Linked DNA regions of Homo sapiens. The protein of the gene in region 2 interacts with the protein of the main gene of each other region in a pairwise test. Each region holds a gene or a part of one and is shown on either strand. Other genes may lie near its edges.

The links.
Region 1: the proteins of ABLIM2 (region 2) and PANK2 interact in binary tests that used the Homo sapiens proteins (3 or more experiments, as listed by UniProt).

What each region holds. Positions count from the first base shown.
Region 1 is NC_000020.11:3,905,383-3,913,806, forward strand, and holds part of PANK2 (pantothenate kinase 2, mitochondrial isoform 7 precursor), read left to right. Parts: intron 1-2,543; coding exon 2,544-2,896; coding exon of another isoform or gene 2,897-2,911; exon of another isoform or gene 2,912-3,243; intron 3,244-5,194; coding exon 5,195-5,448; intron 5,449-7,075; coding exon 7,076-7,252; intron 7,253-8,424.
Region 2 is NC_000004.12:8,147,390-8,155,813, forward strand, and holds part of ABLIM2 (actin-binding LIM protein 2), read right to left. Parts: intron 1-8,424. UniProt on the Homo sapiens protein: May act as scaffold protein. May stimulate ABRA activity and ABRA-dependent SRF transcriptional activity.

The DNA.
Region 1 (8,424 bases), on a different chromosome or scaffold from region 2:
CTCTGTCACCTAGGCTGGAGTGCAGTGGCATGATCTCCGCTCACTGCTCCGCCTCCCGGGTTCATGCCATTCTCCTGCCTCAGCCTGCTGAGTAGCTGGGACTACAGGCGCCCGCCACCACGCCCGGCTAATTTTTTTGTATTTTTAGTAGAGATGGGGTTTCACCTTGTTAGCCAGGATGGTCTCGATCTCCTGACCTCATGATCCTCCCGCCTCGGCCTCCCAAAGTGCTGGGATTACAGGCGTGAGCCACCACACCCGGCCTGCTATCTCTTCTTGTTTCCCAGAATTATTTTAGAAAATAATATATCAAATATATCAATAAACCCACACCCTTTTTTTTTTTTTTTTGAGGTGGAGTTTTGCTCTGTCACCCAGGCTGTAGTGCAGTAGTGCTGTCTTGGCTCACTGAAACCTCCACCTCCCGGGTTCAAGCAATTCTCCTGCCTCAGCCTCCTGAGTAGCTATGATTACAGGTGCCCGCCACCACGCCCGGCTAATTTTGTATTTTTAGTAGAGATGGGGGTTTCACCATGTTGGCCAGGCTGGTCTTGAACTCCTGACCTCAGGTGATCTGCCCTCCTCATCCTCCCAAAGTGCTGGGATTACAGGTGTGAGCCACCGTGCCCGGCCTAAACCCACATCTTTAGTAATTTCTACGATTTAGATTGGGAGGGGAAGCATGTACAGATGCTTTTTGACTTACGATGTTTATGCTACATTCCATAAACCCATCAGAAGTTCAAAATACTGTAAATCAGGCTGGGCGCAGTGGTTCACACTTGTAATCCCAGCACTTTGGGAGGCTGACCTGGGTGGACTGCTTGAGCCCAGGAGTTCAAGACCAGCCTGGCAACATGGGGAAACCCTGTTTCTACAAAAAATACAAAAATTAGGTGGGTGTGGTGGCATGCACCTTTAGTCCCAGCTGCTCAGGAGGCTGAGATAGGAGGATTACTTGAGCCCAGGAGGCAGAGGTTGCAGTGAGCTGAGATTGTGGCGTTGCATTCTAGCCTGGGTGACAGTGAGACCTTACCTCAAAAAAGAGAAAAAGAAAATACTGTAAGTCAAAATGCATTTAATATACCCAGCCTATTGAACATCATAGCTTAGCCAAACCTACCTTAAATGTGCTTAGAACCCTTATATTAGCCTACAGTTGGGCAAAATCTTCTAGCATAAAGCTAGATGATTTAATAATGAATAATATAAAAGATAATTATTTTACAATAAAATGTCGAATATCTTGTAATTTATTGAATACTGTACTAAAAATAAAAAAAACAATAAATACTTGAAGTAGAGTTTCTACTGAATGCTTATTGCACCATTGTAAATTTGAAAAATCATTACTTTGAGCCCTCATTAAATTGGGACCTTCCATATGTCTGTGCAGTCCACTTTGATCCAATCTCTTCAGGCCTTTTTTTTCTTTGAGACGGAGTGTCACTCTGTCGCCAGGCTAGAGTGCAGTGGTGCGATCTTGGCTCACTGCAGCTTCTGCCTCATGGGTTCAAGCGATTCTCCTGCCTCAGCCTCCGGAGTAGCTGGGACTACAAGCGCACGCCACCACAGCCAGCTGATTTCTGTATTTTTAGTAGAGATAGTTTCACCATGTTGGCCAGGATGATCTTGGTCTCTTGACCTTGTGATTCACCTGCCTTAGCCTCCCCAAGTGTTGGGATTACAGGCGTGAGCCACCGTGCCCAGCCCTGCCTTTTTTTTTTTTTTTTTTTTTTGAGACAGAGCCTCACTCTGTCGCCCAGGCTGGAGTGCAGTGGTGTGATCTCAGCTCACTGCAGTCTCCACCTCCCAGGTTGAAGCAGTTCTGGTTTAGATTTCCTGAGTAGCTGGTACTACAGGTGCACGTCACCATGCCTGGCTAATTTTTGTTTTAGTAGAGATGGGGTTTTACCATATTGGTCAGGCTGGTCTCAAACTTCTGACCTCAGGTGATCCACCCACCTTGGCCTCCCAAAGTGTTGAAATTACAGGTGTGAGCCACTGCGCTTGGCCTAAAGGACATTTTGGGAACCGGTGTTAATGTCTATTGAAACCTTTTATTTTTGGAATATCAGATTTTGAAAGATAAATTGACCATTGGAGGTTATATGTTACATAGGTTTGGGAATTTCCTGTTTCTAGTTTGCTGCTAAACCAGAACTCTGAAGTCTCAATGTTTTTTTTTAAGCCGATAGGAAAGAGAGATTTTCATTCTGAATCTTTGTTTTTCACAGTTGAGGCTTACGAGTAGTCATCTTGTTATTTTTAAAACACTTCATAGTGCGGTTTGCGCTTGTCTGACAGAATGGTTGGGTTGGCTCAATACTTTGATATTTTTCTTTTTCGTCTTTGCCGTAGTATTTTTTTTTTAAGTTATGCATCTAAATCAAGACAGAATCACATTTCTTTGCCCCAAAACCCTTTTGCCTAGAATTATGTTCTTTGGAAACCCTAGCGTTTGAAATAAGTTGCTACTGTGGTAAGGGTAAATTTAATTTTCAGAAAAAAGCTGTTCTGACTTATTTTTCTTCCCCATTTAGTTTTTCCATGGTTTGGACTGGATATCGGTGGAACTCTGGTCAAGCTGGTATATTTTGAACCCAAAGACATCACTGCTGAAGAAGAAGAGGAAGAAGTGGAAAGTCTTAAAAGCATTCGGAAGTACCTGACCTCCAATGTGGCTTATGGGTCTACAGGCATTCGGGACGTGCACCTCGAGCTGAAGGACCTGACTCTGTGTGGACGCAAAGGCAATCTGCACTTTATACGCTTTCCCACTCATGACATGCCTGCTTTTATTCAAATGGGCAGAGATAAAAACTTCTCGAGTCTCCACACTGTCTTTTGTGCCACTGGAGGTGGAGCGTACAAATTTGAGCAGGATTTTCTCACAGTATGCATTTTTTAGCTTATATACAATTTATGGTAATTTGATTGTTAAAAATAATGCCAGTAGCAAGTGGTGAAATAATTTCCATCTCTAATGGAACTTGAATTTTCTTGAGTCAAATGAAGATTAAAGGTACGCTAGTGATAGGAGTTGGCCATCTAGAGGTGGTTGTCTAGTTCAGATGTATGGACGACAATCAGAACCACTAAAAGGGTAGCATTTTATTGCTCCTTTAGTATGAAAAATTAGGGCATCTGCTATACGTTGAGGAAGAAACTACCTAAAAGGAACATCATTAGATCATGAACAATGAGATTGAAATATAATTAAAATCATTTCATGTCATAAAATTGTTTTCAGTCTTGTCTACCACATAATTTCTCTTGTCTCCCTCAGTTGTTTGCTGGCATGTTCACTAACTGAAAAAAATAAGGAACTCTGGTCAAAAGTGGTGTTTTCAGGCTCAGGGCTGGTCTGAGATGGGTGACTGCAGAGCCCTCCTCTCCCAGAATGCTTTCTGATGTGTTCTGTGCTGCACACTTAACTGGAGTCTCGCCACCATGTCTGGCCCCTGGGGAATGCTGCCAGGCGCTCTATCTTGCTTTCATTGAGTGAACACTGGAGAACATTGTGAGCAAGACCTTGAGGCTAGGTCCTTTCAGGGTGGATGGTGGGGGTAGGCCGGAGAACTGACAAATGAATAAGCCAAGATCCTGACCGTCAGGGTGCAATACAGATTGAAAATGTCTTCAGTGACTGACTGTTTTTCTGTTGCTAAATGAGAGAATATTAGTCTGAAAGAGATTCTGCCTTTTTGTTTTGTTTTGTTTTCTTGAGATGGAGTTTTGTTCTTGTTCCCAGGCTGGAATGCAATGGCTCAACACAACCTCCACCTCTCGGGTTCAAGCGATTCTCCTGCTTCAGCCTCCCAAGTAGCTGGGATTACAGGCATGTGCCACCACGCCCGGCTAATTTTGTATTTTTAGTAGAGACAGGGTTTCTCCATGTTGGTCAGGCTGGTCTCGAACTCCTGATCTCAGGTGATCTGCCTGCTTCAGCCTCCCAAAGTGCTGGGATTACAGGGGTGAGTCACCTTGCCCGGCCCAGATTCTGCCTGTTATTCTGCATGTCTTTTAGTAGAGATGGGGTTTCACCATGTTGTCCAGGCTGGTCTGGAACACCTGACCTCAAGTGATCTGCCTGCCTCGGCCTCCCAAAGTGTTGGAATTACAGGTGTGAGCCACCGTTCCTGGCCTCAACTTTTTGACTAACATGCCTTGGAGTTCTTCCCACTTCAGAACATAAAGATCCTCTTCATTTTTGTTTTGTTTTGAGACGGAGTCTCGCCCTGTCACCTAGGTTGGAGTGCAGTGGTGCCATCTCAGCTCACTGCAACCTCTGCCTCCTGGGTTCAAGAGATTCTCCTGCCTCAGCCTCCCGAGTAGCTGGGTTTACAGGCGTGCACCACCATACCCAGCTAATTTTTTTTTTTATCTTTAGTAGAGACTGGGTTTCACCATGTTGGCCAGGCTGATCTTGAACTCCTGACCTTGTGATCCACCTGTCTCAGCCTCCCAAAGTGCTGGGATTATAGGCGTGAGCCACCGTGCCCGGCCGATCCTCTTCATTTTTAGTTGCTATACAGTGCTCCATAATACGAATAATAATTTAGTCATTCCTTTATTATTTAAATGGAATTAATTGATTATGAAACAGTTCAAATTTTGACTGCTAAAATTCCCCTCCCTCCCAAGAGGCTGTAGCTAGTTTAGATAGTGAAAAAAATCTTACCTTCTAACTGGATACTTTCAGCCTTTTGGCTTCAGTTTGTTAAATAATGTGTGGCCTCTTTTGATACTGCTCCAAAGCCTTGAGATGGTCCTCTGTCACAGTCCTTGTGGCTCCCACCCTGTGTCACAAGGTGGTTTCTGATAGTGCTGTGGCCTGAGCTTGGTATCAGCCCCATTGTCCCTGTAAGCAGAGATCTGAATTTCTGTTTGAAGGTTGATAAATGCTGTGGTTTTTTTTTTTTGTTTTTTTTGTTTTTTTTTTGGTCACACTTATTCAGCTGCTGCAGTAGTTTCTATGTAGAGTGTATTTGGGTCTGTAGTAGCAGGAGTCTGTCTCAGCACTGTGTCCCTAGGTTTGCTCCTAAATCTGTTCTGTAAAGCATGCACAAATAATACACATCTGTGAGTGCACTTTCATGGTTGTTTCACGTAGTGGGGATGCCTTATTGAATGGAATTTTTGTTTCTGTTGGCTTATTAAAAAGTCTGAGTACATTCTTATTTCATTACAGATAGGTGATCTTCAGCTTTGCAAACTGGATGAACTAGATTGCTTGATCAAAGGAATTTTATACATTGACTCAGTCGGATTCAATGGACGGTCACAGTGCTATTACTTTGAAAACCCTGCTGATTCTGAAAAGTGTCAGAAGTTACCATTTGATTTGAAAAATCCGTATCCTCTGCTTCTGGTGAACATTGGCTCAGGGGTTAGCATCTTAGCAGTATATTCCAAAGATAATTACAAACGGGTCACAGGTACTAGGTAAGTTGTATATAAAACTCACTGTTTATTCTTAGTATCCTAACGGGCTGAGTTTTCAGGTATTACATGTAACTACACCTTCAAGAACCTGTTAGGTGAAAGTGTTTCTGGATTATGCAAACAAATGTTTCTCTTTGAAAATTCTGATTTTATGACCTAGTTTTCTTTAATCTCTACTGTTCAAGATTTATTATCCTAGGTGTTTCTTAAAAGATCACATCAGCAGACTCATTGTAGCCTTTGCCCTCAGATAGTTTATGGTGTGCATACACAAAGTAGCTAAAGTTATTAGGCAGCATCTGTAAGGAGAAGGCACGGGAAAGGACCTAGCTCTGAAACCTGTGTAAATTTCATGCTTCCACACACATGTGTGTGTAGAATAATGATGTATTCTATGTATGTGATTTAGAAGTTGATATGTACTGATCAGTAGAAAAATTATTGAGGGAAGGTAGTATGAAAAGAGAGGATTAGCCGGGCGTGGTGGCTCATGCCTGTAATCCCAGCACTTTGGGAGGCTGGGGCGGGTGGATCATGAGGTCAGGAGTTCAAGACCAGCCTGGCCAACATGGTGAAACCCCATCTCTACTAAAAATACAAAAATTAGCCGGGCGCAGTGGCAGGCGCCTGTGAATCCCAGCTACTCGGGAGGCTGAGGTGGGAGAATTGCTTGAATTCAGAGGGTGGAGGTTGCAGTAAGCCGAGATTATGCCACTGCACTCCAGCCTGGGTGACAGAGTGAGACTCCGTCTCAAAAAAAAAAGAAAAGAGAGTATTAGGGCCAGGCACGGCAGCTTATGCCTGTAATCCCAGCACTTTGGGAGGCCGAGGCGGGTGGATCACCAGAGGTCGGGAGTTCGAGACCAGCCTGGCCAACATGGAGAAACCCCATCTCTACTAAAAATACAAAATTAGCCGGGCGTGGTGGCACATGCCTGTAATCCCATATACTTGGGAGGCTGAGGCAGAAAAATCACTTGAACCAGGAGGCAAAGGTTGCGGTGAGCCGAGATCGTGCCATTGTACTCTAGCCTGGGCAAAAAGAGCTAAACTCCATCTCAAAAAAAAAAAATGAGGATTAGATGGAAGAAGAGAATGTTTCGGCTTAAGGGTCAGAGGTCACTTCAGGAAAAACAGGCATCTAGGGATTGGGATAAACAATTTTTTTAAAAAAACAGTTGTGATTTAAATAGAGGAGTAATTTTTTTGTGACAAAACACGTTGCAGGAGGAGTATGTTTGGGGGTGTACTGATAAGCCAGGGTGACAAGGTGCTTGGATGAGAATGACTCAGGGAATGTACTTGGAGAAGGGAAAGGGAGGAGGTGTTAGCATGGCCCCAGGCGTGTCAGGCTAATTTGCACCTGAGGCTCTTCATACTTGGCAGACAGCCAGACTGCACTGGGGACATGGGCCCTGTGTTTTGTACTTTGCATGTTGGCTCACATGCATATGTACCTTAAAGGTGTATATCAGGCACCTTATCTTTTCACAGACTTGTTTCCTACCAGTGGCATTTGCATGATTGGGTTGGATATGTGAATATGGTTTTGGGGTTCATAAATGTTAACTTCTTGTTCTTATTTTTAAAAATGTTATAATACTGTGTTAATTGTTTTTAATCATAGTCTTGGAGGAGGAACTTTTTTTGGTCTCTGCTGTCTTCTTACTGGCTGTACCACTTTTGAAGAAGCTCTTGAAATGGCATCTCGTGGAGATAGCACCAAAGTGGATAAACTAGTACGAGATATTTATGGAGGGGACTATGAGAGGTTTGGACTGCCAGGCTGGGCTGTGGCTTCAAGGTAAGGGGGCATGTGTGTTCTAAGAAATACAGGCGGGCCGGGCGCGGTGGCTCATGCCTTTAATCCCAAAACTTTGAGAGGCCGAGATGGGCAGATCATGAGGTCAGGAGTTTGAGACCAGCCTGGCCAACATAGTGTAACCCTGTCTCTACTAAAAATACAAAAATTAGCTAGGCATGGTGGTGCGCGCCTGTAGACCCAGGTACTTGGGAGGCTGAGGCAGGAGAATCACTTGAACCCTGGAGGTGGAGGGTGCGGTGAGCTCCAGCCTAGGTAACGGAGTGAGACTCTGTCTCAAAAAAAAAAAAAAAAAAAAAAAAGACATAAAATAATAATATTGGGCATATTTTTTAAAAAAGCTCTATTGAGATATAATTTACGTACTATAAAGTCAGCTGTTTGAAGCGTACAATTTAGTGGTTTCTAGTATATTTACAGGATTGTGCAACCATCACTGTAATCCCAATTTTAGGACATTTTTATCATCCTAGAAAGAAACCTTGTGTTCATTAGCTACGACTCTCCATTCCCCCCACAGCCCCTGCCAAACAGTAATTTATTTTCAATGTAGGTTTGCCTCTTCTGAACATTTCATATAAGTGGTATCATACAGTATATGATCTTTTGTGATTACTTCTTCATATAGCATATGTTTTCAAACATTCACATTACAGTGTGAATCAGTACTTTATTCCTTTTTATTGCCAAATAATATTTCTTTTTTCTGAGACGGCGTTTTACTCTTTTTGCCCAGGCTGGAGTGCAATGGCGTGATCTCGGCTCACCACAACCCCCACCTCCCAGGTTCAAGCAATTCTCCTGCCTCAGCCTCCTGAGTAGCTGGGATTACAGGCATGCGCCACCAAGCCTGGCTAATTTTGTATTTTTTAGTAGGGAAAGGATTTCTCCATGTTGGCCGGGCAGGTCTCGAACTCAGGTGATCTGCCGCCTCAGCCTCCCAAAGTGCTAGGATTACAGGTGTGAGCCACCGCGCCCGGCTGCCACATAATATTTCATTACGTGGATAATACTACATTTTATCCATTTATTGGTTGATGAACATTTGGGTTGTTTCCATTTTTTGGTTATAATGTTGAACATTTATATGTAAGTCTTTGTATGTATGCACACACACACACACATATATATATATATATTTTTTTTTTTTTTTT
Region 2 (8,424 bases):
CAGAAGATATCCCCATCTAATCGCTAAAACCTGTGACATATATGGTTAAAAGGGGAGGGGTCTTTGCAGATGTGATTTACATAAAGCGTCTAGAGACTGGGAGATGATTCTGGATGCTATGGGCGGGCTCTGAGTGCAATCTCAAGAGTCCTTATGGGGAGGAGGGAGCGGGAGACGACACACACAGGGGAGAAGTAGCATGAAGATGGAGCTGAGGGAGGTTTGAAGACTCTGCCTTGAAGATTGGAGCAACGTGGCCACAAACCTCAGAATCTGGCAGCCACCAAAGCTGCAGGGGTGAGGACTGAGCCTCCCCTGAGCCCCCGAGGGAGCTGCCAGCGCCGTTTAGCCTCGGACACTGACATTGAACTGCTGGCCTCCAGAGCTGGGAGGAAATGCCTTCTCTTGCTTTAAGCCTCCCAGCTTGTGGTCACTGGTGACCGCAGCCCCTAGACACTCACAGGTGGCCTTTGCCCAGCACTCTGGTTGTGCCATCTTCCCTGAGCGAGGCACGGACCTGCACAAAACCCTTTCTTTAATGGGTGAATCGCCCTTTAATCACGAAGTCAGCCCTAGGCCCAATATCCCAGAAGAAGGGGCACGAGTCAGGGCCCAGCTGCAGACCAACCCCAAACTCTGGTGTGGTTCCCTGAGGCCCAGGTGGGCAGGCAACAAGGGATAGTGGCCCGACCTTGCTGGGGGAGAAACCCCTCACCAAAGCCCACCATGCGCACCTTCCCCGGCAGAGAAGGGGTTTGGAGTGGCAGGAGGCAGGGGCAGAGGGAGAAAAGGAAGACGTGGCGGCGGTGCAGCAGAAGCTCTCCTGTGGGGGCCCTGGGCCAGGCAGGTTCTGAAGGGCCCAGTGTGTCTGGAGGGGAGAGGATGAGCTGGTGGATGAGAGGGCTGCAGCTGCAGGTGACCTAAGCAGCACTGTGGGCCTGCGGAGGCCTCCCCACTGGATTCCAGAGGGGGCTCTGGGCCTACAGTGAAGCAGGGCCCACAGGAGGTGAGGGAGCCGCTCAGGACGCGGGGGGGCCATGGCGCACCACAGTTAGGAGTGCGGGTTCTGCAGCTGGCACGGTGCTTCTCAGCCGAATCACCTCGGGAGAGTTACCTAATTCCCTGGGCCTCCGTTTGCTCACCTGTGAAGTGGGAATACTGGTAGTCCCGAGCAAGGAGCTCTGATGTAAGGATTATAGGGTGAAAGCACATCGCGGTGCTGGGTCCACACTGGGGAAGCGCGTAAGCCGTTCCCCCGTGGGCATGCACAGCAGAGTCCTGCTTGCCTGGAAGCAAATGCTACATCCCAAGGTGTCCATTGCCCCAAACCACACAGGAACTCAGAGTCGGAAAGATCCTCTAGGACAAGCCCAACCCCAACAGAGATGAGGAGGCCAAGGCTCAGGGGGTACATGGCCTGGGCTGGTTCCTGGACCCCCACCTCTCCATGAGACCACCCCTATCTCCTCCCAGAGCTGCTGATGTACCAAGAAACCTGGGCTCCGCAGGCACCCGGGAGATCAGGCCACGCCAGGACCCGGGATCTGGAGGCACCAGGGAGAGTCCAGCTGTGCCAAGGCCCAGGGTCCCCAGACACTACGGAGAGTCAGGCCACGCTGAGATCTGGGGTCCCCAGATACCAGGGCAGATCCAGCCAGAGTGTGAAGGGGTCTGTAGGGCTGGGGCCATCTGGAGGCTCCGGGGGAGATCCACTTCCGTGCCTCTTCCAGCTTCTAGGGGCACCCGAGTTTCTTGGTGTGGGGCCCCTCCCTTCATCCTCAGAGCCAGGCGTGGAGACTTCTCTCTCCTCTCTGCTGCCTCCTGCCTCCCGTTAGCGAGAAGCCTCAGGCCCCCTGAAATCCAGAGCAGTCTCCCTGTGGCAAAATCCTTCACATAGTCGCATATGAACAGTCATTTTGCCGCATGAGGTCACATAGTCACAGGGCCTGGGATTAGGACATGGGCACCTTTGAGTCCACTGTTCAGCCCCCCAACACCATCCAAGAGGAGGTATTTCAGAGAGGGCAGGTCCCAGCTCCAGGCTGCAGAGCAGGCAGGAGCAGGCACAAATCTCCACAGGAAACCCCAGCTTGGTCTGTGTCCACAGGTTCAGAGGAAGGAGGGAAGCAGAGGGCCTAGAGATGGGAAGAAAGCTTCACAGAGGCCCTGGAGTCCGGCAGAGCCTTGAAAGGGAGAGGAGGAGGGACTCCAGGGGAGCGGGGGCAGGCAGAAGGCGGCAGGAAGAATGCAAGGCTGTTGGGGGATCAGGGCAAAGACAGCACATAGTAGGTGCTTAATAAATAGTCGTGGAGGGACAGAAGGGACATTCTGGAAGAGCTCTGAGCCCTTGGGAGGCTGTTGACTGCTGGACACAGAGAAGGCCCGGACCTAGGCTGAGACTTCCCCAGCACCTCACACTCAGGACTGGCCCTGCGCCCAGACAGGACGGGGCCTATGGAGTAAGACCCCACACAGCCGGTCCCTCTGTGGGACGATTCAGAGGCTCCCAGTGGGACTGAGTCCCCACTTGCCAGAGTGGTGGCCCCCATCCAAATGCCCCCTCCTGGCTTCCCCTCCCTTCCCCCCTTACCCTCCTCACACCTCCCTCGTGCTTCCTGGGGTCACCTCCTAGGTAAACCACCTGCACCCAAGTTCCCACTGCACCTACTCAGGGAGCCTAAATGGAGAGAGTTGTGGGGCAAAGGGGTTGGAACATCATGAGGGCATTTGAAACTAGGCTGCCAGGTTGAAGGTCTGGATGCTCCTTGGAATTCTTCCTTCTGGGCACTTCGTGTCCAGCTGCAGCATCAACTGATGTCATTTTCCATGTGCGATCCCGGGGACACTGAGGTCTGCAGAAGCAGAGGGTCAGAGAGACAGGCCAGGCTGTCTTATGGAATGACGGCAGACAGATGAGGAGGCCATGCTGAACTGGGGACGGAGTTCCACCCATCACACATCCTCCACTCCTTGGGTGTTCACGAAATGCCTCCTCTCATTCTACCTGAGTGGCTTTCAGGGGAGCCAGTACAAGGCCCCATCGTGCCCTGAGGACAGACGCCAGCGAGGACAGAGGCAGCATGCTAGCCGCAGTGACACTGAGCACTTTTCTTGGTGCGCTGGCTGGACTCACATTTCCAGATCGTCTCTCTAACTCGTCTCTCTAAGCACAGAGAAACCAAAGTCCCAAACTTCCAGCACAGGGTGCGAGCTCCGTGCCGGAGGCGGGAGGAGCCACTGCTGCTGCCTGGGATGGGGGCTGCTCAGTAGAATGCAGCTAAAATGAAGCTTCGAGCTGAGACCGATGACTCAAGACACCACGCCTCCTGAGGATGCTGTGCCGAGAAAACCGGGAGCTGGGTGGCTCTCTGGAGACGGTGCTTCTCCTGGCACTGGGCTGCAGCCTTGTAACCAGGACTGAGATGGGGCTGGCAGGGGAGACAGCAGGACCAGAGAAGGGGAGGGGAAGCTATGAACCCAGCCTAGGGTGTGGCTGATGATGCCAAAGCGGCTCCCACGGGGCACGACGTCAGGTTTGTCCCTGAGCTGTGAAGGGTATTTACAGCTGTGACAAAGGCCATTCTGCCCGTTCCCTGGTGCCTGCCGTGCCCAGGCCCTTGACTCTCACTCAGCATCTCTGAGTCTACAGTAACCCCTCAAAAGCAGCTGTCATCACCTGTACTTTTTATGTGGGGAAACTAAGGCAAAGGGCATTTAAACAATCCGCTTGGAGAAACACACAACTAGCAAGTGACGATTGGGGCTGGAGCCCAGGTGTGCCCAGCCCCAAAGCCAGTGCATCTTCTGAGGCACCCAGACTGGCCCCCTCACATTTGGAAATGTTCAGCCAAGGGAAGTGACATGAAGCCACCCAGCTCGTTATCCGCAGCAGACCTGTTTGTTGTAGGCCTGGAAGCTGCTGATGGCGAGAAGCCCCAGAGCCAGCCCTGGCACCCACAAGGACCAGTGAGCGTCCCAGAATCCAAAGCCCCCTCCTCCGCCCCAGTCCTTCCCACAGACGCGAGGGACCCAGCTGCCCTCCTAGCTCGAGCTCCAGGCAGACATCCACAGAAGCTGCTAATCCACAGGCGGCAAGGCACCTCCCTCCACGCCAGAGACCCTCAGCGTGAGGCCCAAGTACTGCTCACCCAGCTGGGAGCATCTCGAGAGCCAGATGAGAAAGGTGGGCGCAGCAGGGTCCCTAAAATGGCAGCCAGGCCTCACACCCAAACAGTGGGCGGGGTGGGGCGGTGGTGTCAGAAGAAAGCAGGGTTGTACCCCGAGGATGGCAGTGGCCCTGTTTTTACAGATGGGTACACTGAGGCACAGAGGGACGATGACTTGTCCAAGGTCACAGAGGTCCAGGCGAGGGGCTGGAGACGCTGCTGGGCTGGGCTGTGTAAGCAGGGGGAGAGGCACTGCCTTCAGTGGAACAGATGGGCCCTGGGGGGATTGCAGGACTTGGGGTGGGGGTGGGGGAGTCGGAGCAGAGGGTCAGGGTTCCAGGGGGGCACATGGGCTCAATGTGGTGAAAGTCCTTCTCAGGCCCAGGCTATCTGAGGGTGAGTCACAGAGGCCATGCAATGACGCTAGGCAGGAACCCCCATAGGAGGCGGGTTTGGGTCTTGTCCTGCCTCCTGGCTCTGTGCTGGCAGGTCCCGCAGCTGGAAAATGGGAATAACACACCACGGCCCAGGCGAGAAGATGGGCTGTGTGAGACCCTCACCAAGAAGCGCCATCATGATGCCCCCAAACGGGCCAGGCTTTATCCACACCAACACTCAGCCACGCGTTATGAGGCAGCAACCAATCCCCCACAGCCACCGGCTAAAGCACGCAGGCAGGGGATAGGCAGACAGCGCCCGCCTAGCCAGGGATACGCGTGTTGCGGCTGAGTCGGGCACACTGGGGTTCAAATCCCAGCGCTGCCATTTACAAATCACGTGACACCAGGCACCAGACGGGACTCGCAGGCATTTCTTCCTCCGTAGGTAGAGATGCCACCGGCCGCTCCGAGCAGCGCTGCGAGGACCCCGGGAGGAAACCTATACGAGCATCTGGCCCAGGGCCCCAGGGCGGCACTTGATGAGCCGCAGTCTCTGCGACATTTAAGCCTGTCCCACCTGGGTGCTGCCCGACACCCTAGACACCCTGAGCAGCCCTGGCGATGGAAAAATTCCTTGAGTAAATTAAGACTGCTCGACTCGGGTTGCTCTGTGCTGGGTGCGAGCCTCGGAGGTCTGCTCTTTCGGGGCTTCCCCGGGACTGGGACAGCCGCGTCCATCATGCGGGGATGACTGCAGGACCCATGTGATCAGCCTCAAGCACTAGGAGCTATCCCAGGACATGACCCATGTTTTCCTATTGCAACTATTTTAACAACCTCTGTGAGCCTCTACCACGTGCCAGGCAGAGACTGGTCAGCTCATGAGACCCTCAATCCCTACCAAGACTCTGGGGAGGGGCAGCAATGGAAAGAAGGACACAGAGGTCTTATCTTTGATCATGCTAGCAAGTGGCAGGGCTGGGTGTGAGCCTGAGACCCCACTTCAAGGTAGGTTTTACGGAGCCCTACCCAGGCAGAGGCACAGCCAAGGGGTGCAGCAAGGAAGGGCCCTAAGTATCTTTGCAGGGAAGGGACTATGGAATCTAGGCTCTGGGGTTGGTTGATGGCATCAGGCCAGCAGCCTGATCTGGCTTCAAGGATAGGCAGTGCCCGCTTAAAGGGCCAGCGACAAGACAGGCCCCTTCATCTCCCAGTCTTGCCAATTTCCTCTCGAGCTCAGAGGTCTCCCGTGACCCAGATGATGCTCTGGAAGCCCAGGGTGCGGGCCAGGCAGCTTTTCCATGAGTCAGGGACACACACCTTTTTCTGGGACAGTAAGATTGAACTTTCCAAGAGTTCATCAAACTCAAGACTTGATTCTACAAAATATCCTATCTACCCCCAAACCATCTCATTGACAGAAACCATAAAGAGTCAAAGGATCTTGAGTGGCCAGGTTAGGAAGGAACCCTGCACATCACGGAAGAACAGGGCAGAGCTTGGGGGTGACCAGGTTAAGCGGAGACTGCCAATGCCTGGGCAACGGCAGTCCTCTCCAGATACAATCTCAGATGAATTTCTGGGTCAGGGGGGTCTGGCTTCTGCTGCACCTCATTCAGAGTGGAGTCAGGCAGGGAAAATCTGCAGCAGTGCAGCTGCCTGTGCTAAGCTCCCTCGATGCTGGGAGACACCCCCATCCCACGCAGCAGATAGTGGCCCTGCAGAACGGAATCGCCGGGCTTCTCCCGGAGTGATGGGTTTCTACCAGCGCTGGAGGCAGAGTGTGCTCTCTTCTTTCCATTTGATCTTTCAGTACAAAAGAAAAGGGCACACAATGAAGAAAACTTGGAAAACACATGGAAAGTAAAAAGGTGCAGAAGACGGAAAACTTTGTTCCTTCTCCCACATCTTACAGATGGGCACCGACGGCACTTCCCGACATTGCCTCCCTCACTGTTTCTGTAGAGTTGACATCCTATATGAAATACAATTTTGTCCTGAGCTGTTTTCTAAATTAAACTTCTTTTCTTTTTTTTTTTTTTTTTGAGATACAGTCTCACTCTGTCGCCCAGGCTGGAGTGCAGTGGCGTGATCTCGGCTCACTGCAAGCTCTGCCTCCCAGGTTCACGCCATTCTCCTGCCTCAGCCTCCCGAGTAGCTGGGTCTACAGGCACCTGCCACCACGCCCAGCTAATTTTTTGTATTTTTAGTAGAGATGGGGTTTCACTGTGTTAGCCAGGATGGTCTCCATCTCCTGACCTTGTGATCCACCCGCCTCGGCCTCCCAAAGTGCTGGGATTACAGGCGTGAGCCACCGCACCCAGCCACTTATTTTCTTTTCTTTTCTTTTTTTTTTTTTTTTTTGGAGACAGAGTCTTGCTCTGTCACCAGGCTGGAGTATAGTGGCACGATCTCAGCTCACTGCAACCTCTGACTCCCTGGTTCAAGCGATTCTCCTGCCTCAGCCTCCTGAGTAGTGGGGATTACAGGCACCCACCACCACACCCAGCTAATTTTTGTATTTTTAGTAGAGATGGGGTTTCACCATGTTGGCCAGGATGGTCTCAATCTCCTGACCTTGTGATCCACCCGCCTCGGCCTCCCAAAGTGCTGGGATTACAGGCGTAAGCCACCGCACCCGGCCAATTAAACCTGTTTTCTTAAGCATTTTCTCCTAACATTAGAAATTCTTTACATATGTAGTTAATTCTTCATGTGGGTAGTAACTTCATATACATCTTCCCCACCGCCCAATTAGAATGTAAGTTCAAGAGAACATAGATTTTGGGTTGTTCTCGTCTGTTGCTGAATCCCAGGGCCTGGAGCAGCGTGGGCTCACGTATTAGTCTGTTCTCATGCTGCCAATAAAGACATACCCAGGACTGGGTAATTTGTAAAGGAAATAGGTTTCATGGACTTACAGCTCCACATGGCTAGGGAGGCCTCGCAATCATGGCGGAAGACGAAGGAGGGGCAAAGGGACGTCTCACATGGCAGCAGGCAAGAGAGCGTGTGCAGGGGAACTGCCCTTTATAAAACCACCAGCTATCGCCAGCCTTAATCACCACCATGAGAACAGTATGGGGGAAACCACCCCTGTGATTCAATTATCTCCACCTGGCCCTGCCCTTGACACGTGGGGATTATTACAACTCAAGGTAAGATGTGGGTGGGGACACAGCCAGACCGTATCAGCTCATAGTAGGCATTTTGTGCATCTTTGCTGAATAACGAGTGAGTGAGATGGAACAGATGGCTCATATTCCATCACTGGCTTCCACGGTTTGGTGGTTTCTAACATTTTGTTGTTACTAGTAAGTCTGAGATGAATGTTTCTGTGGCTACATCATTGCCCATTCTTGGATTAGGTGAAGAAATGTGTCTCTGTTCCAAATACTAGGATCTGCACCGTCCACAGTCTGGGGACTAGGGCTCAGGTTCGGGCTCTGCCACATCCTCTCCTTGGCCCTGGACAGCTGCTTTTCCTTCCCTAAACCTTGGTTTCCCCCTTTGTGCAGGTGGGTGGGTTTGGGCTGGAACATTCCTCATGTCCCTTCCAGTTCCATGATCCTAAGAGCAGCATGGAAACAGAAGGCTGAGCCAGCCACAAGGCCGCCCTTGGCCCCGCACCCCTGTTATGGACTGAATTGTCTAAATTCATATGCTGAAGTCCTAACCCCCAGTACTCCAGGATGTGACTATGCATGGAGACAGGACCTTTAAGGAGACCACTAAGGTGAAACGAGGTCATGAGGGTAGGCTCTAACCAAGTCTGGCTGGGGTTTTCATAAGAACAGATTAGGACACAGACACACACAAAGGGAAGACGGGACGAGGACACAGACACACACAAAGGGAAGACGGGGCGAGGACACAGA